Linked DNA regions of Homo sapiens: all the other regions are linked to region 2. The links come from fine-mapping of genetic effects on gene expression. A gene starts in region 2. Each other region holds a variant in brackets. All regions are shown on one strand. Distances are from middle to middle. Region 1 has its middle 7.8 kb from the start of LLGL1. Region 2 holds the start of ALKBH5 (alkB homolog 5, RNA demethylase). Region 3 overlaps LLGL1 (LLGL scribble cell polarity complex component 1).

The links. PIP is the estimated chance that this variant, and not a neighbour inherited with it, causes the effect.
Region 1: its variant is the best candidate, but not a certain one, in a credible set for the expression of ALKBH5 in whole blood (TOPMed, PIP 0.82).
Region 3: its variant is the best candidate, but not a certain one, in a credible set for the expression of ALKBH5 in whole blood (INTERVAL, PIP 0.87).

Annotation. Positions count from the first base shown.
Region 1 is chr17:18,214,694-18,220,972 of GRCh38, forward strand. No RefSeq gene overlaps it. Among named protein-coding and RNA genes, the nearest start is that of LLGL1, 7.8 kb to the right of the region's middle. RefSeq lists an enhancer at 2,888-2,987. The variant G/T (reference allele first, on the strand shown) is at 3,748.
Region 2 is chr17:18,180,902-18,187,180 of GRCh38, forward strand. ALKBH5 (alkB homolog 5, RNA demethylase) reads left to right here and starts at 2,927. Exons shown (of 4, transcript NM_017758.4): 1 at 2,927-4,112. The coding sequence starts at 3,343. RefSeq lists silencers at 594-888, 3,025-3,324, 3,405-3,494, 3,653-3,804, 5,028-5,077 and enhancers at 2,315-2,514, 2,575-2,814, 2,922-3,759.
Region 3 is chr17:18,242,420-18,248,568 of GRCh38, forward strand. LLGL1 (LLGL scribble cell polarity complex component 1) reads left to right here. Exons shown (of 23, transcript NM_004140.4): 21 at 89-209; 22 at 324-403; 23 at 1,489-2,456. The coding sequence ends at 402. FLII (FLII actin remodeling protein) reads right to left here. Exons shown (of 30, transcript NM_002018.4): 18 at 6,131-6,149; 19 at 5,510-5,614; 20 at 5,238-5,429; 21 at 4,750-4,938; 22 at 4,494-4,633; 23 at 4,175-4,409; 24 at 3,889-4,043; 25 at 3,743-3,803; 26 at 3,515-3,643; 27 at 3,325-3,431; 28 at 3,136-3,241; 29 at 2,935-3,000; 30 at 2,396-2,853. The coding sequence ends at 2,719. Among named protein-coding and RNA genes, the nearest start is that of FLII, 13 kb to the right of the region's middle. RefSeq lists enhancers at 4,586-5,137, 5,688-6,149. The variant C/T (reference allele first, on the strand shown) is at 2,801.

The sequences.
Region 1 (6,279 bases), 34 kb after region 2:
AGTTAGCCAGGCTTGGTGGGCGCCTGTAATCCCAGCTACTTGGGAGGCTGAGGCAGGAGAATCGCTTGAACCTGGGAGGCGGAGGTTGCAGTGGGCCAAGATCGTGCCACTGCACTCCAGCCTGGGCGACAAGAGCAAAACTCTGTCCTCAAAAAAAAATTTTTTTTTTGTAGAAGACTTCACACTGTGTTGCCCAGGCTAGTCTCAAACTCCCAGCCTCAAGTGATCCTCCTGCCTTGTCCTCCCAAAGCACTGAGCCACTGCACCCGGTCCCCTATGTAATGATGTTTAATTATATTCGAAAGACCCTTTTTCCTTATGAGGTGACATTCACAGGTCCCAGGGATAATGACCCGATATTTGTGGAGGCCATGGATCAGCCCCTACATGCCCTTCTCCCAGTAAAGTTATTGCCATTAAATCTGATATATCATCTGCTTTCTCATCCTCAAATATTAGTTGGATTAAAATTTCTCAGCTATAGCAGTACTTTTAAATTTAATCTGAATCATTAATATTTTCCTTCACTTTCTCTTTTTTTTGAGACGGAGTCTTGCTCTGCCGCCCAGGCTGGAGTACGGTGGCATGATCTCGGCTCTCTGCAAGCTCTGCCTCCCGAGTTCATGCCATTCTCCTGCCTCAGCCTCCTGAGTAGCTGGGACTACCCGCCACCACGCCTGGCTAATTTTTTGTATTTTTTAGTAGAGACAGGGTTTCACCGTGTTAGCCAGGATGGTCTTGATCTCCTGACCTGGTGATCTGCCCACCTCGGCCTCTCAAAGTGCTGGGATTACAGGCGTGAACCACCACATCCGGCCCTCTTCATCACTTTCTTAAATCTAGACCTGTGTTCTTCAGTACAGCAGCCACTGATACTTGGCTATTGAGTATTTGAAATGTGGCTAGTTTGAATTGAAATGTGCTTTTAGTGTAAAATACCAGAATTTGAAGAGTTAGTATGAAAAAAACAATGTAAATCATTAAGAACTTTATATTGATTACTTGTTGAAGATACTATTTTGAGCTGGGCATGGTGGCCTACGTATAATCCCATCACTTTGGGAAGCTATGGTGGATGGATTACTTGAAGTCAGGAGTTTGAGAGCAGCCTGACCAAATGGCAAAACCCCGTCTCTACTAAAAACACAAAAATTAGGTGTGGTGGCGCTCGCCTGTAATCCCAGCTACTTGGGAGGCTGAGGCAGGCTTGCACCTAGGAGGCAGAGATTGCAGCGAGCCAAGATCGTGCCACTACAGCCTGGGTGAGAGAGCGAGACTTTGTCTCAAAACCCCCCCAAAAAAGAAGAAAAAAAAAACTATTTTGGACATATGTTAAATTTGGACATACTGGGTTAAATAAAATAGGCTGAGGCAGGAGAATTGCTTGAACCTGGGAGGCGGAGGTTGCAGTGAGCCCGAGACCGTGCCATTGCACTCCAGCCTGGGCAACAGAGCCAGACTCTGTCTCAAAAAAAAAAAAAAAAAAAAGCTATTTAAATTAATTTCACCTGTTTTCTGTTACTGTTATATCTGGGTACTCAATAATGAAAATTACATATGTGTCTTGCATTATATTTCTGTTGGATGGTACTGGTCTAGAAAACTATAGAGCTGGGCACAGCAGCACACCCTGTATTCCCAGCTACTCAGGAGGCTAAGCGGGAGGATTGCTTAAGTCCAGGGGTTATCATGGCTGATTGCAGCTGATCAAGGTAAGGTCACTGAACATCGAGCTGTGAAGAAATGTGCAGTAACACCCCAATATATAGTGTTTCCACCATACAGATACAATAGATGTAATCCAAGAGTACAGATAATAGGAAAATGTGGCAAAATAAGTAGGAAATGCTTAGTTTTTAATATTACCCTTAGTTTTTAGTGTAATTTTAATTTTATATAATTAATTTTTAATGACTTTAACAACTGACTCACAAAAGTTCTTGAAAATTTGCCATTTGGCTCTTGCAGAGGGCTCCAGCACACCACTAGATTCCCATAGAGAGTTTGAGCAGAGGAGTGATGTGAACAGATGTAGGATCACTGGTGCTGCTGTGCAGAGGACTGTCAAAATCAATAAGAAAACCACTTTCTTAGCTGAGTGCAGTGGCTCACGCCTGTAGTTCCAGCACTTTGGGAGGCTGAGGTGGGTGGATCACCTGAGGTCAGGAGTTCAAAACTAGCCTGGCCAACATGGTGAAACCCTGTGTCTACTGAAAATACAAAAATTAGCCAGCCTGGTGGTGGGCGCCTGTAATCCCAGCTGCTCGGAAGGCTGAGGCAGGAGAATTGTTTGAACCCGGGAGGCAGAGGTTGCAGTGAGCTGTGATCGTGCCATTGCACTCCAGCCTGGACGACAAGAGTGAAACTGTCTAAAAGAGAGAGGAGAGAGAAAGAGGAGAGAGAGAGAAAAGAAGAAAGAAAAGAAGAGAAAGAGAAAGAAAAGAAAAGGAAAGAAAGGAAGGCCTGGCACGGTGGCTTACACCTGTAATCCCAGCACTTTGGGAGACCGAGGTGGGCGGATCACGAGGTCAAGATATCGAGACCATCCTGGCCAACCTGGTGAAACCCTGTCTCTACTAAAAATACAAAAAAAATTAGCCGGGCATGGTGGCAGGCACCTGTAATCCCAGCTACTTGGGAAGCTGAGGCAGGAGAATCGCTTGAACCCGGGAGGCGGAGGTTGCAGTGAGCCGAGATCGCGCCATTGCACTCCAGCCTGGGTGACAAAGTGAGACTCCGTCCCCCCCCCCAAAAAAAAAAAAAAGAAAGAAAAGAAAAAAGAAAATCCACTGTCTTTGTGAGAGATGGAAAACTAAGGGCTCGGGCAGTGTCAGGGCTGGGGTCCTCCAGTTAGGTGTGAGGCGCTTGCTGCCGCAGTTCCTCCTGTGTCCACAGTGTGGCAGCATAGCCTGAGTGATGGTGCTTCAGAGTAGAGGGCAAGGGCCAGCAGCTGTCCCTTGGTTTGGATGGGGAACTGAGGTCCCCAGAGACCCCCGAACCTGCCAGAGGTTACTCAGAGCCAATAACTTAGGTTCCCCACTGCTTCTGCCCTTCTCAGCCAGGGATCTCAGGGCTAGTAGGGTTTTCCTCCCACTTCCTTACTAATCCTAGTAGGTGTGGAGGGGCACTGGGACCTGTGGGTCAAGCAGATGCCATCAGGTCCACCCCCAGGCCACACATAACAGCAGTCCCAGCCTGGGCCCCACGCTACCTCTCTTGGCCCCAGCTCCTTGGAGAGTTCTAGACATCTTTGCAAGTGCCAGTACTCTGCCTCAGGCAGCTCTCTTCCATGCTACCTTCTCTGGCCCCCTCCCAGGCTTTTCAGGGGTGCCTTTGGGCTCCCCCACCCAGACCGGGGCCTCCTTTGGCACTGCCTAGAGTGTACTCTGTGGTCCCAGTGTTTCCACTCCAGGCTGGGAAACAGGGCCCTAACTCCCACCTTCTCCTGCACTCTCATTGAGTGAGGCCATTAACTTACTGTCTCATTTAATTCTCGCTGCAACCTCTGAGACGTCATGAGGGGACTAGGTTTACATCCTGATTCTGCAATATACTAGCTGTGTGACTTTGGGCAAGTTAACCTCTCTGGCCTCAGTTTCTTCCTTTGTAAAATGGGCATAAGATTAAAGGAATAACTAGTGCCTGGCACAGACTAAGTGCTCAGTGTTAATAAATGGTAGCAATTAATATTAGCCCGCATTTCGCAGATGAGAAAACAGGCCCAGAGAGGGAAAGTGGCAGAGGCAG[G/T]ATTAGCACTTGGGGCACCAGAGAGAAGTGAAACACAAAGCCCCACCTTCCAACAGGTCTGTGGTAATGTCCACATACCCAGCCCCTTGGGCCTCAATCCTGACAGTCCTTGCAGGGAGCAGGTGTGCCCAGATCCCCGTTCCTGTAGCCCAGCATGAGCCAAGAAAAGCATACTCAGGATCCAGGCTCAGCGAGTGTCAGGGCTGAGAGTCCTGCCTCCAGAGAAGGAGCACTCGGTTAGAGGTCCAGGGACTCATATATTATTCACCTGTCACCTTGGGCAGGTCACTTCTCTGAACCTCAGCTTCCTCCCTTGTATAAAACAAGGACAGAGTAGGTCAGCCCCAACACTCCCCCTACCTGTCTGGCCTTTCTTTCATGGAGGCACACAACACTATTCACTCTCTGTAGATTGAGGAGGCCCTAAATCCATTGCTCCCTTCTGTCTGGACCTAAAGGACACAAGACCTTATTAAGCTTCAGCTTCATTTGCATACCACATGGGATGAGGTATTCACTCCTCCCTGGCTTGGGCTGGTCTGCTGACCCTGTCTTGGAGTCTCAGTAAGCCCACCCTTTCTCCCACTCCCTCATCTCTCTCCTTCCATCCTGGGCCCTGCCTAGCTCTGTCCCAACCTAGACCACTCCAGGAATTTTCCAGCCTGCCAGATCTGGCCCCCCAGGAGCCACTAGGAAGAAGTTGAGTCCGTGGTTTGGGCAGCTCGAGAGGGTCATGGCCTCAGCTGGGATCTGGGCCAGCTTCTGAAAGCCAGGGCCTGCCTTCTTCAGTCAGACTCTTGGTTTTCCTCCCACTTCCTTACTGACCCTAATCTACCTCCCTTGGAGCTTCCCCACTTGTCGCTCCCTGAGATCACCCTTTCTCTTTCCCTCTGCAGAGGAGTGACCAAGTCACTTCTCTACACGTATCTTCCATTTACTGTCTATAAAACAGGGTTGTTCTGGTATCTATGAGGATTCAGGGAGATATGCACAGATATAGCCTTTACTGGGGCACCTACGTCCGAAGACACCTTCAATGCATGCCATCCTGTTCACCTACCTGCCTACTTACATCCCATCAACCACCAAACCGCCACTTCTGTGGACTTAACTCCTGAACAGTATGGATTATTTGTTGTTGTTTTTGTTTGTTTTCTTTTTTTTTTTTTGAGACAGCGTCTCACTCTTGCCCAATCTGGAGTGCAGTGGTGCGATCTTGGCTCACTACAACCTCCGCCTCCCGGGTTCAAGCGATTCTCCTGCCTCAGTCTCTCAAGTAGCTGGAATTACATGCATGCGCCACCACACCTGGCTAATTTTTATATTTTTATTTTTATTTATTTTGTTATTTATTTATTTTTTGAAATGGAGTTTCACTCATGTTGCCGAGGCTGGAGTGCAATATCTTGGCTCACTGCAACCTCTGCCTCCTAGGTTCATGCAATTCTCCTGCCTCTGCCTCCAGGGTAGCTGGGATTACAGGCATGTGCCATACACCTGGCTAATTTTTTGTATTTTTAGTAGAGACAGGGTTTCACCGTGTTAGCCGGGATGGTCTCGATATCCCAACCTCAGGTGATCCACCAGCCTTGGCCTCCAAAAGTGCTGGGATTACAGGCGTGAGCGAGTGGGCCCGGCAATTTTTGTATTTTTAGTAGAGACAGCGTTTCACCATATTGGCCAGGCTGGACTCAAACTCCTGGCCTCAAGTGATCTGCCCACCTTGGCCTCCCAAAGTGCTGGGATTACAGGTGTGAACCACCGTGCCCGGCCTCAGATCTTTAATCTATTTTTTAAAATTGTTTTCTTTGAGACGGAGTCTCACTCTGTCACCCAGGCTGGAGTGCAGTGGCGTGATCTCAGCTTACTGCAACCTCTGCCTCCTGGGTTCAAGTGATTCTCCTGCCTCAGCCTCCTGAGCATTACAGGTATGCACCATCACACCTGACTAATGTTTTTTTTTTTTTGTATTTTTAGTAGAGATGAGGTTTCACCATGTTGGTCAGGCTAGTCTCGAATTCCTGACCTCGTATTCCACCTGCTTCAGCCTCCCAAAGTGCTGGGATTACAGGCGTGAGCCACTGTGCCCGGCTTTAATCTGTTGTTTTAAATGTGTCGAGCATTAATTATGTGCCAGGCGCTATTCTAGGCACAGCTGGTTCACTAGGAACAAACCCTGCTGGGTCCTGTGCTCAACTCTTTTTTTGAGACAGAGTCTCGCTCTGTCGCCCAGGCCGGAGTGCAGTGGCACTGATCTCGGCTCACTGCAACTGCTGCCTCCTGGGTTCAAGTGATTCTCCTGCCTCAGCCTGCCAAGTAGCTGGGACTACAGGTCTGTGCCATCACGCCCGGCTAATTTTTTGTATTTTTAGTAGAGATGGGTTTTCACCGTGTTAGCCAGGATGGTCTTTATCTCCTGACCTCGTGATCTGCCCTCCTCGGCCTCCCAAAGTGCTGGGATTACAGGCGTGAGTCACCGCGCCCGGCCTCAAATCTTGTTTTGAGTCATCTCATTTAGTCCTTACTGCATTT
Region 2 (6,279 bases):
CGGTGAGTGAATGTAGGAGTTGGGGAGACCAGAGGGGGCTGCTGCAGTGTTAGCTGGAAAACTTGTCATAGATTCTAGTGGTGGTGATGGGTGGGGAGAAGTTGGTAACTGGGGAGAGATTAGAAGGCCCAGCTGGCAGGACTAGGGGGTCAATCAGACCATCCTGGGATGGAGAGGATCAAGAAAGAGCCCCTGATACAAATGCCACAGGGCTGTCCTGCTTTTCACCACTGCCTTGGGTTGGCTTTCCCCAGAAGCAGACCCCAAGGTGAGGAAAGTAAGGAACTCACCAGAAAGAGTGTGGTGTCAATCAAGTTACCACTGTGCAGGGGCCATGCCTGGCAGCAGCTCACTTAACCCCTGGGGTTCTGCCTGCGGCGCTGATGCTCAGTATAGGGACCCCCAAAACAGAGCACAGTGGGCTCCAACATGAGGCAGCCCTGAGGCCTGCCCTCTGCCCCTCATTTCTCATTGTTGTGAGATCATACATGGTGTGTGTGAGGGGGAGGGGGTGTCAGGCTAATTCTTTTGCCCCAAAACCTTTTCCCTAGTCAAGCTGAACTATGAGGCTCAGGAAGGGATGATGTGGCAGAGTGAAAACGAGGGGGCCCTTTTGGCTTTCAGAATACAACTGGGGCCTCCCACACAGACTACAAGCGGCTTCTTGGAAGTAGATCATCCAGGTTGAGCCAAAATGTGAATCACCTCTTCTCTAGGTTGACACAGCCTCTCCCATAACGGACACTGCATTGGAAGCTTCCCTGTGTTCCTCCCTGACTGCTCTTGAGCTAGGACTCTCCCCTCTCGGAGCCCCGGTGAGGGACAGCACAGATTCTGGAACCAGGCAGCCTGGGTTTGAATCATCACTAGGCCACATACTCGCTGTATGGCCTTGGGCAAGTCATTTCACCTCTCTGGGCCTGTTTCCCTATATATACAATGGTAATAATAATAATGCCCTCCTCATTGAATTGTTTGGACGATTAATTGGGCTAGTATATGCACAGGTCCTGGCACATAGTAAAAACTTGATAAGCTTTTTAAAAAAATGTCCATTCCAGGCTGGGCGCAGTGGCTTACGCCTGTAATCCCAGCACTTTGGGAGGCCGAGGCAGGAGGATCTTGTGCCCAGTAGTTCCAAGACCAATTTGACAACATGGTGAAACCCCATCTCTGCTAAAAACAGAAAAATTAGCGGGGTGTGGTGGTACACGCCTCTACATAGTTCCAGCTACTCAGGAGGCTGAGGTGTGGGAGGATGTCTTGAACCCGGGAGGTCGAGATTGCAGTCAGCCAAGATCGTGCCACTGCACTTCAGCCTGGGCAACAGAGACTCTGTCAAAAAAGAACGAGGAGGAGGAGGGGAAGGGGGAGAGAGAGAGGGAGACGGGTGATAAGGAACTGGCATGGGCAACAGCCATGGCAAACAGCCTGGGCAAAGGCCAGGAGGTGAGACACAGTATGTTTGTAGACCTGGCTTACAGGATGAGGACCAGGCTGGGGCTCAGTGTACATGGAAAGAGAGGAGAGGAGGAGCCAAGGCCAGAAGAGTCTTGAAGAAAAGCTTTGAGTGCCAAATAAAGCAGGGGAACTTTATCCTGGGAGACATGGGAGATTTTCCAGCAGATCCCCCCCGACCCCCATTTGTTGGAGCCCTCCAGTGCATCCTGCACGGCTACGCCTTTTTGTTTTGTTTTGCAGCTCTGTCGCCCAGGCCGGAGTGCAGTGGCGCCAGCTCGGCTCTCTGCAGCCTCAATCCCCTGGGCTCAAGGGATCCTCCCACCTCAGCCTCCTGAGTAGCTAGGACCATAGGCGCGCGCCACCACGCCCAGTTCATTTTTAAAAATTTTATTGTAGAGATGGGGTTGCCATGTTGGCCAGGCTGGTCTCAAACTCCTGGGCTCAAGTGATCCGCCCGCCTTGGCCTCGCAAAGTGCTGGGATTACAGGCGTGAGGCCCCGCGCCCGGCAACGCCTTTGCTGACTGCTTCAAAACTTTTTTGAATTGACTGTAGTCATTATCTATAGCTTAGCCTTAGCCTTGCGCCCGTTCGTTTCCTGGAGTTTTCTTCCAGAGTCCCCGTAGGAGGTGCCCCCACGCCCATCTCCAGCACCAAGGAGGCTCGACGCCAACCCCAGCGCGCCCCCACGCTCGCCGTCACCGGGACGTGACTCGTGAAACGTCCGCTCCGGGCGGCGGCGGCAGCGGCGGCAGGCTGGCTTGTACCCCGACAACGCGCGTCTGGCTTCTGCCGGACGTTCCTATCTGGGTTCAGAACTGGGGCCGGGTGCTGCAGGTCCCGCAGTCTGAGAAGTTTTCGCGGGTTTCAGAAGTTTCCTTAGGCGTTCTAAGGGCTTTACTCAGGTGGAGTCTCCATTCAGGCACTTATTTAACCACCCATTTCTCCTTTAGGGGTCCTCGCTGCTCGCCCAGCCGCTAATTAAGTGACGGACACAGTAGCTAAGGAGACTGCCTGATTGACACGCATGATTACCAACCGACTTCCGGAAACTCCAGTCAGGGCCTGCCCGGCGCGTGGCCCACGGCCCAATTAAAGAAGTGGAAGCGCCAAAGGGGGAGGTAACGGAGCGGCCTACGTTGTGGCGGTTCCCTGGTGAATGCGCCCTGGGGTTGAGGCGTCTGCGGGCGTTCGGACGATGCCGTGACGCGGCACGGCGACACTGTTGGCAATATGAGCGCACCCCTGTAGAGGGAGCCCTTCGGTCCTGGAGGCGGCGCGGCGTGAAGACAGGTTGCTATTTGAGAGCGTTCCCTTGAAGCCCCTCAGAGAGTGGGGGAGGGGCGGCGGACGGCAAGCGGTTCCTGTCTGCGCTTGCGCCGGCGCCTCTGCCGACCCGGCCTGCACGCACGCGCATGCCCGTAGCGCGCGGAGCCGCGGTGGCCGGCAGCACTGCGCGTGCGCGGTGAGGAGCCCGCTAAGGAGCGGCGCTGGCGGACGTCGGGCTGGCTGCCCGTGACGTCGTGCGGAGAGCTTTAAAGTGCGGGCCGGGCCGGGCGTCCGAGGGTCTGGTCGGGAGTCGGGCCGCGTCTCCGCAGCAGCCCTCCGCGGCATGAGGCGCTGCCGGCGCCCCTGCCCCGCGGGACGTGGAGAAGGTGGAGGAGGAAGAAGCCCCGTTGTCGCCACCGTTGCATGACCCGCCGCTCCTGAGGCCCTACCCCACGCCCGGACCCTCGACGCCCCCCGCCGGGTCCCCCACTCACGCATGGGGGTTCGGCGCTAAGGACCCCCCTCCCTCCGGGGGCCCCGGGGCGCGTCCCCTTAGAGCCATGCCCGGCTGCCCCGCCCGCCCCGGAGGACCCTAGAGCAGCGTCGTGGGGGCCATGGCGGCCGCCAGCGGCTACACGGACCTGCGTGAGAAGCTCAAGTCCATGACGTCCCGGGACAACTATAAGGCGGGCAGCCGGGAGGCCGCCGCCGCTGCCGCAGCCGCCGTAGCCGCCGCAGCCGCAGCCGCCGCTGCCGCCGAACCTTACCCTGTGTCCGGGGCCAAGCGCAAGTATCAGGAGGACTCGGACCCCGAGCGCAGCGACTATGAGGAGCAGCAGCTGCAGAAGGAGGAGGAGGCGCGCAAGGTGAAGAGCGGCATCCGCCAGATGCGCCTCTTCAGCCAGGACGAGTGCGCCAAGATCGAGGCCCGCATTGACGAGGTGGTGTCCCGCGCTGAGAAGGGCCTGTACAACGAGCACACGGTGGACCGGGCCCCACTGCGCAACAAGTACTTCTTCGGCGAAGGCTACACTTACGGCGCCCAGCTGCAGAAGCGCGGGCCCGGCCAGGAGCGCCTCTACCCGCCGGGCGACGTGGACGAGATCCCCGAGTGGGTGCACCAGCTGGTGATCCAAAAGCTGGTGGAGCACCGCGTCATCCCCGAGGGCTTCGTCAACAGCGCCGTCATCAACGACTACCAGCCCGGCGGCTGCATCGTGTCTCACGTGGACCCCATCCACATCTTCGAGCGCCCCATCGTGTCCGTGTCCTTCTTTAGCGACTCTGCGCTGTGCTTCGGCTGCAAGTTCCAGTTCAAGCCTATTCGGGTGTCGGAACCAGTGCTTTCCCTGCCGGTGCGCAGGGGAAGCGTGACTGTGCTCAGGTAACCCACCCGGGTGGAGGGGGCGGCCCTGCGCCTGCTGCCTTAGCTACCCACCCTGGCCCAGAAAGCAGCAGCCCGTAGGAGTCTGCGTTTTTTACAGTTCTGACCAGTTCTTCTGTTTGTAGATTGTAGGGAGCGAGAGAAGGGTTTTGTGTTTAAGATACCTATAGCAAGAAAATAGGGAACCGATGTGGAAATCCTGTCCCCGAAGGCAGGTTTGACGGGATCACTGACTTGGCTGAGAATTCATCGAAAGCCATCTTTTCAGAAGGCTGTTCCCTTTGATTTTTTTTTTTCCCACCATCCATTTCTTAGCATAAGTCCCTTTGTGATTTTCCGGTTTTCCATTCTGGCCTTCCATTTACAAATCTATGCTTTAAAATTTTTTTTTTTTTTAATTTATCTAAAAGTCTTTCTTGTTCTGCCATTTTTGGATTCCTTAACAGAGAAAGTAGTCACAGGCAAAGGCCCCAGAGATTATTTAATTGAAGCACATTCTCCATTCCCAGGAGGGGGAGTGACTTCCCTGGAGTTGAACAGATTAGTGGTTGGGCCAGGCATACAGAGCAGCACACTCTTAAAATTCTTCCCTCCTGGCTGCAGAAGAGCCCATCAGTTCTTTGTAAGAACGTGTTACTTGTAGTCAGGACTGAATACAACAGAATACAGCTGGTCTCTTGACTGTTTGGCCTTACAGTTGCGTGAGCAGCAGAACTTAGGCTTTTGGCCTATATTCGGTTCCCAGATCCTGCTGAGAATTAGCTCAGTGCCCTGGCCCCCAGAGGAGATTGCCATTGGGAACACCTTTGCTGTTTATGTGAAGTGAAAATTTATTTGGAAGCGGCCTCCTTCCAGTCCTGAAAAAGGTAAACCTAGTAATGTAATTCAGTAATACCCAAAACATCTTAGGTTTAGACCGCAGCTGTTCTCAGAGCAGCTTGGTTGACCACCACCAAATACAAGGTTGAGGACACACTGGGCTTTTGTCGTGAGCAGCCCAGGTTCTGAAGTGAGTCAGTAGGGCCAAAGTCATGAGGAGAAGCAGGGTCCCTGGAGCCTTCTTGATATGAGATTAGGTCATCTGTTTCATTTGAGTCTAACAGCTGAGGCTGCTTCCATGTTGGGGATGGCAGCAGAGCCTTGTAATGTCCAAGACGTCCTGGTGGGAAGGTGGGAAGTCAGTAGTAGCAGAAGCGATACTTTAGCTCTTTAGGCATCTGAAACTTAGAGGACAGCCTAGCTGTCAGATGCCTTCTTATAATGGGCTTCTGAGCTTCTCAGATCTTCATGGCGCTCCTAGATGGATGTCTTGGCAAAATGCTTTAAGATGGGATTTCCAGGACACACCCTCTCCGGGTGCTTGCTGTGTAAGGCAGGTTGGGGTCTGACCCCATTGACGGGTTCTCAGTGCAAAAATTACCTCACACAAGGACCATTTGGTCTCTTAGCGGGATATTAATTTTCTGCGTAGTCATTGGCCCTCAGGGTGGTTGTCAGGAGGTCTAGTAGTGGTCTGGTGCTTAATGAGGGGATCACAAGGCATTTTTTTTTGGTTTTGGGACTACTACTCTCCTTAACACATGCCCACCCTGTATTTTAAGAACAGAAGTTTCGAGTTCTTAGTATGCAGGTCTGTTAGTGATCAGCAACAGGATTGCATCATCAGGAAAATTCTCTTCATCTTTTCCTCAGAATAGTAAAGTCCTAAAGCTTTCCCAGTCCCTGTCAACCCTTTCTGGATTCAGACTTGGCTGTGGTGTTAGTGTGGGAGGCTCAGCCATGTCCTGAAAAGTGCTGCCCCAGGCTTTGAATCCAGCTTTTCTCTCATTTGCTTTGGGATCTTGTAGGCGTTCTCTGAGCTGGCTTTCCCATCTGTAAGTGGGGATGATGCCAACTTCCAAAGCCTATTAGAATTAAATGTGGTGATTTGTTGTCTAAGATAGGGCCTGGCACAGGGTAGGTACTTAAATGGGTGCTTGCTTTCATATACAACCACTCAGTGATCCCCTGCTCTCTCACTGGGGAAGGAACTAGGGATTTGGTGGAGCCTGAAACATGACAGTTTCCCTTCGTGTAGTTCAAGCCCCATGGAGGCCTCAGACAGGAGGATAAGTTATAGCCCAGGAAGGTAACTGCAGAAGCACACTGAAGGGGGACATCTTTTCCA
Region 3 (6,149 bases), 61 kb after region 2:
GGGCTGCCTTATGGGTCTGTGTCCCTAGGCCCCCAGGTGCAGAGGGTGCTAAGGGTCCTGGTAGGGGCTGATGACTTGCTCCCTGTAGACACCCCGGAGCCACCCGAGGCTGCACTCTCACCCATGTCCATCGACTCAGCCACCAGTGCTGACACCACGCTGGACACGACAGGGGACGTCACAGTGGAAGATGTGAAGGATTTCCTGGGGTGAGGCTGGTGGGCAGGTCCACAGGGGGGGCTGCCCTGTCCCCTAGGCCTCCGTCCCCAGGGCTGCCAGGGGCTCCCCCGCCCCCACCCCTGAGCACCATCCCCATCTCGCAGCTCCTCTGAGGAGTCAGAGAAGAACCTGAGGAACCTGGCAGAAGACGAGGCCCACGCCTGTGCCATCCTGATCAAATGAGGTGCTGCAGGGGTGGGGCCCTGGTCCTCACCACTGGTGACGTCCACCCCCTTCAGCCCGTCTGGGTACCATTTGGCCCTGGTCTTCTACCTGAGACCCTGGCAGGCCCATGTGATGGCACTCTCTGAAACCTGGCTGCCTTCCATGGAGTGCCTCAATTGGGGACTTCTGGTGCTCACACAGACACCAGTGTCATGGTTGGGTATTAGAAAAGCAGGGCCAGCCCCTCAGCCCTTGCATGTGACAGGTGGTGGTTAGGACAAGACCAGATTTGTTTTGTTTTGTTTTGTTTTGTTTTGTTTTTGAGACGGAGTCTTGCTCTGTCGCCCAGGCTGGAGTGCAGTGGCGTGATCTTGGCTCACTGCAACCTCTGCCTCCTGGGTTCATGCCATTCTCCTGCCTCAGCCTCCTGAGCAGCTGGGACTACAGGCGCCCGCCACCACACCCAGCTAATTTTTTGTGTTTTTAGTAGAGACGGGGTTTCACTGTGTTAGCCAGGATGGTCTCGATCTCCTGACCTCATGATCCACCCGCCTCGGCCTCCCTAAGTCCTGGGATTACAGGCGTGAGCCACCGCACCCGGCCAACAAGACCAGATTAAACCACTTAGAGGTGGCAGTAGTTTGGGGCTTGGGAGCTGGTTTGGCCAGCCTGTTTCATAGATGAGATCACTGAGGTGCACGAGGTCAGGTCTCATCGGTTGGGCCCAGCAAGTGGCTGACTTACCCCTGCCTGAGTCTGTGGATCCTCACCTAGATGTGGGGCCCATAGATCTGCCCAGCGCATTTGCTGCCTCATGTTCCCAGGCACCTGACTGTAGGCCATAGCCTCACCCTGCACAGGACATGGACACCTCCCAGCTCTTTGTCTGGTGCCTCTCCCTGGCCTCAGTGGGGCATATGTGGCCTGGCGCTTGGATACCCATCTGGAGACTCAGCAAGCCCATCTCAGGTGGTCACTGAAGGGCCATGCCTGCCCTGCAGAGGAGACAGTGGCAGCACCTGTGTGGTCTGGCCGCTGTGGCAATCCATCTGCCCTTTTGCCCTCCCTCACCTTCTGCTGATACCTCTTCTCTCCCTCTTCCAGGAAGGCCAGAACTATCCCGACCTCCACCTGCCCTGCTCGGAGCTGGAGTGCTGGATCCCTGGCACCTGCCTGGCCCCTTAACATAGAACCACGCCTGCTAACCTGTAGGCTCCACTGGGACCTGCTGTCCTGTCCCGCCTGACCCTGGGCCCTGGAGCAGCACCAGCCCCAGGGTGTGGGCCTGGGACCTGGGCCAGAACTGAGCCCTCCTGCAGGCATTTGGCTGCCCTGGGGGCCCACTGCCTAGGGAAGAGGACAGGTGGGGCCCAGCACCTGTGCCACCTCCCCCCCTCCACACACCATCCTTCCCCCTCACTTTGCAGAGTATTTTTCCTTTTTTTTTTTTTTCTTAAAGACGGAGTCTTGCTCTGTCGCCCAGGCTGGAGTGCAGTGGCCCCATCTCTGCTCACTGCAAGCCCCGCCTTCTGGGTTCCCGCCATTCTTCTGCCTCAGCCTCCCAAGTAGCTGGGACTACAGGCGCCCACCACCACGCCCAGCTAATTTTTTCTGTATTTTTAGTAGAGATGGGGTTTCACCATGTTAGCCAGGATGGTCTCGATCTCCTGACCTCGTGATCCACCCACCTCAGCCTCCCAAAGTGCTGGGATTACAGGCGTGAGCCACCATGCCCAGCCCTGCAAAGAGTATTTTTCTAGCGCCTGGGCTGGACAGTTGTTTCTAAAACTAAACTATTTTGGTACCTGCTTCTGGGCCAGTCCCCAGCCTGTCATGAGTGTGTGTGTGCGGGCATGGATGTGACTGGGAGCTCTGCTGGGCACCCACATCTGGGGCCTAGTCAGGTGTGTGTGTCCGGCGGGGGGGGGGGGCAGGGGGGGGGGTCAAGATGAGTTTCCCTGTAGATTGTACCTTGGGGTTTTTTTCTGTCGTTTTGTTAAAATTAGCGCCATTTTAATATTAAAAATACTGATTTTTAATATTGAAAATAAAAGCATTTAATATCTCTTAAAGGGCATCCACATCTGCTTTATCCCTAGCGGAAGAGTGAGGGGGCTTCACACGTGCACTCACACTGTGGAGAGAGTTGGATTTCCCAGACCCCTGAGGGCACCTGTCAGGGTCATCCCCATTGGTGCTGCTTGAGGCTACTGGGGACTGTGGCACTGGACGTGGCTGGAGCAGGTGGTGTCACCTGAGTACATTCTTTGCTAGCAGACAGTGGATGAGGCCCCTTCCTCTTCCTCACCAAGCCTGGGGCTGTGCCAGCCTGTCTTAGGCCAGGGCCTTGCAGAAGGCGCTCCAGGCGTGGAAGCAGCGGGTAAAGGCGTGCTGCTCATTGCCCTTGCGGACCAGG[C/T]GCAGCCGGCGCGGCCGCTCATGTTCCTTGGACCGCATGTGCTGGATATATACCTGGCAAGGGGACAGCGAGCCTTGGGTGATGACCCTGCCCTGCCCACAGGCCCACCTCGGCCCTCCCTCCACCCAGATTACCTGGCAGGCCTTCAGGCTCAGCTTGATCTCCACCTGGCTAGTCTGGGTCCCCACCCACATGTAGACCTGTGGGGGCAGCAGGGGAGATACGGTTGCATGGGTGCCTGGGAACAGCCCCTTGCTCCTGGCCCGAGAATTCCCATTTGTAAGTAAGTCTATGGGCGCCTCCTTGGATGGGCAGGGCTAGTGGCAACATCACACCTCTTGGCCATTGTCTAGCAACATGATGTCATCATCTGCCAGGTCATCTTGGCAAAAGTCGGAGCATTTCTCAGTCACTGCAAAGTAGCCCTTCTCGTTGGAGCACCTGGGAATCAAGGGTCAAGGTGAGGCCAGAGGTCATAAGCAGCAGTGCCAGGACTGAGGGGAGGGTCAGGGCCCTGGCCTCACCGGAAGAGACGTGTGTGTTTCATGTACTCGGCATCGTCATCATAGGGCTTCTGTGCCCCAATGCCCACCCAGAAGAAGTTCTCAGGCTCCTCACCTTCGTTGATAACCTGCGGGAAAGGCCAGTCCAGCCCAGGGCCCCTGCCTGCCCTGGCTCCTCTGTGTGTGCCCGCCTGCCCGCCCGCCTCCTGACCTGCTTGCTGTAGGAGGTGTCAAACATGGTGTTCAGGATGTCTTCTGCCAACTTGGCTTCGTCAGGGTCTGATGCCCGGCCCACCCAGGCATACACGATGCCCTGGTTGTCCTCACTCTCAAAGGGAACCTGGGGAGTGTGCAGGGGTGGGGGTGTTCGCAGCTGACTCAGCCCCCAAACACCCCACCCCTTGGTCCACGGAGTCCTGGCTCACACCCACAACCCCACCTTGAGGATGAAGCAGAACTCGGAGTTGAGGAGGCTGGAGTCGGTGTTGATCTGGATGCACCTGTGGAAGGGATGGGGCATCAGCAAGGATTCAGGCCTGGCTCCCTGACGCTTGCTCGCCACTGCGTCCTCCCCCAGCCAGGCACCGGGTGCAGAGGGCGCTGCCGTTGGTGCGGATCTGGTAGAGGCTGGGCTGTTGGGCGCCCTGGACCGCCTTCCTCTTGCCCCGGTGGATGATGAACTTCCTCTTGAAATGGGACAGGAACTTGGGGTTCTCCTGCTGCTGCGTCATGCGTACCACCTGGGGATGTGGAAGTGTTAGGGGCAGCTCCCTGGACCCCCACCTGCCCCTCGGGAGCCTAACCTTCGCTGGGTCTGAGCCCCACCACACCCCTCCGCCTGGCCTCGGGCTCGCGGGGCTGCCAGGCACACCTCCAGCTTCCCAGGGAAGAGGCTCTCGAACTTCTTTTGCAGGCTGAAGGTGAAGGTGAGCCAGCCCATATTGGAGGCTTCACGGCCCTGCCAGAAGTACACGATGCACTGGAAGTCCTCCTCTGGCTGCTTCTCCTCTGCCTCAGCGGTTGCTTCCTCGCCTTCTTTGCCCTCGGCCTTCTCCTCCTTGTCTTCCTTCTTTTCCTCCTCCTCGTACTCCACAGGCACCCAGTACCTGCCGGGTTGGAAGGTTGTGAGCAGGGGCTCGAGCCCCCAGCACCAGGGGAGGGACTTGGGGAAGGGAGTGCTGAGGTGGTACCTGCAGAGGAAGACGTAGCAGTCCTGCGTGTAGAAGTGGCCAAACTCCTCTTCCGGCAGCCGCGCAAACTTCTTGCCCTCCAGCACGAAACCCTCCATGCCGTCTAGGTCTTCGTTCCACTCCTCCATCAGCTGCTCCGCCTGCAGGTGAGAGGGACCCGCCCCGCGGCAGGTCTGAGCGCGCTCTGCGCATAGGCCCCGCCCTCGGCCTGCCCCCCACCCCCCCCCCCGCGCCCCGGTCCCGGCCCTGCCCCCACCTCGGCCAGCGACATGGGCGGCTGCCGCGGCAGGAAAAGCGCAGTGAGGTCAGCCTTCATCTGGTCTTTCTTCTCGGCGTCGCGTTTCACCTTCCCGGAGAGACCCGGGCTCTGCAGCACGGCCTCCGCATTGCGTGTGTAGTCCACCGTCAACACATCGTCCCAATTCTTGAACTTGGCCTTGAACACCTGCCAGGGAGGCCATCAACTAACCATGAGGGGTGCGGCATGATTAGAGTTGGAGGAAGTAGCCCGAGGCTTGAGGCGGGACCCAAGGGAGATCTAGGGCGGGGCTTGGGAGGCGGGGCCTCGGACACGGAGGTAGGAATAGGAGGGGCAGCTTGCAGAGGGGGCGGGGCCTGGGCAGAGTCAGCAAAGAGGAGGTGGGTTTGGGCCCAGCTCTGTAGGGAGGTAGTGAAGCCACAGGGGTCAGGGCATGTCAGGGTGCGAAGGATCCTGGGGAGGGGCCTCCGAAGCTGCAAGCGCACCTGCGCCTCGGTGCCCTCGAGGCTGCGGCTGACCGTGGCATGGCGTGGCCGGTGCAGCATCCCGCACAGCTCCTGACCCAGCTTGAGGGCGGCAGCGCGCACCAGGCGCGGGGACTTGCGGCCGAGCCAGATGAACACGTCGGACCAACAGTCCAGAATGTACACGCAGCGCGTGTCCAGCAGACTCTGCAGCTGCGGACCGGGAGTCTGGAGGTCAAAGCCCAGCCAACGGGGAGGGATCTGGCCCCACGCCCTCCTCCTGCATCTCTTACCAGCCGCATTCTTGGCATCAGCTCCACCTTGGGACGCTGCTTATGTTCCACGGAGAGCTTGTAGTTGATCTGTGGCAGCTCCAGGTAGCCCAAGCCCAGGCCCACCTGGCAGGAAGGATGAGCATGGCAGGGAAGGGATCTGGAGACAGGAACCTCACCCACACAGCCCTCTGCTCTGGAACCAGCCCTGCCCTGCAGCGTGGCTCACTGACTGCTTCTGTTTCCCCCTCCCCTTCAAGGTCTTTTTAGGGATATCCTTTCAGAAGGGCTTTTAAATGGAGTTTTCCCTGCCTGCCCTCTCCAGGCCCTTCATGCCATTTCTAATTAACGTGTCCCTTTCCTGTTCACAAGAATCTAGATAATTGAGCCAAGGTTCCCAGCCCTGGCACTAGGTGCTTCTGTCTCCCCTACGGCCCCACCATCCTGGAAAGACTCCGTGAGGCTACTTCTCAAAAGCAGCCTCCAGACCTTTGCTCATACTGTTCCTTGTCCAGAAGGTGGCACCCTCTCCCCACCAAAGTCGAGATGGAGCCCAAAGCCAACTACATCGGTGTGTAGTCCATTCCCCCAGTCGGTGGGTGAACTTGGGAGGCCAAGGTGGGCCTCAGCAGCAGGGCTCACCTTGTACAGCTTGGGCTGC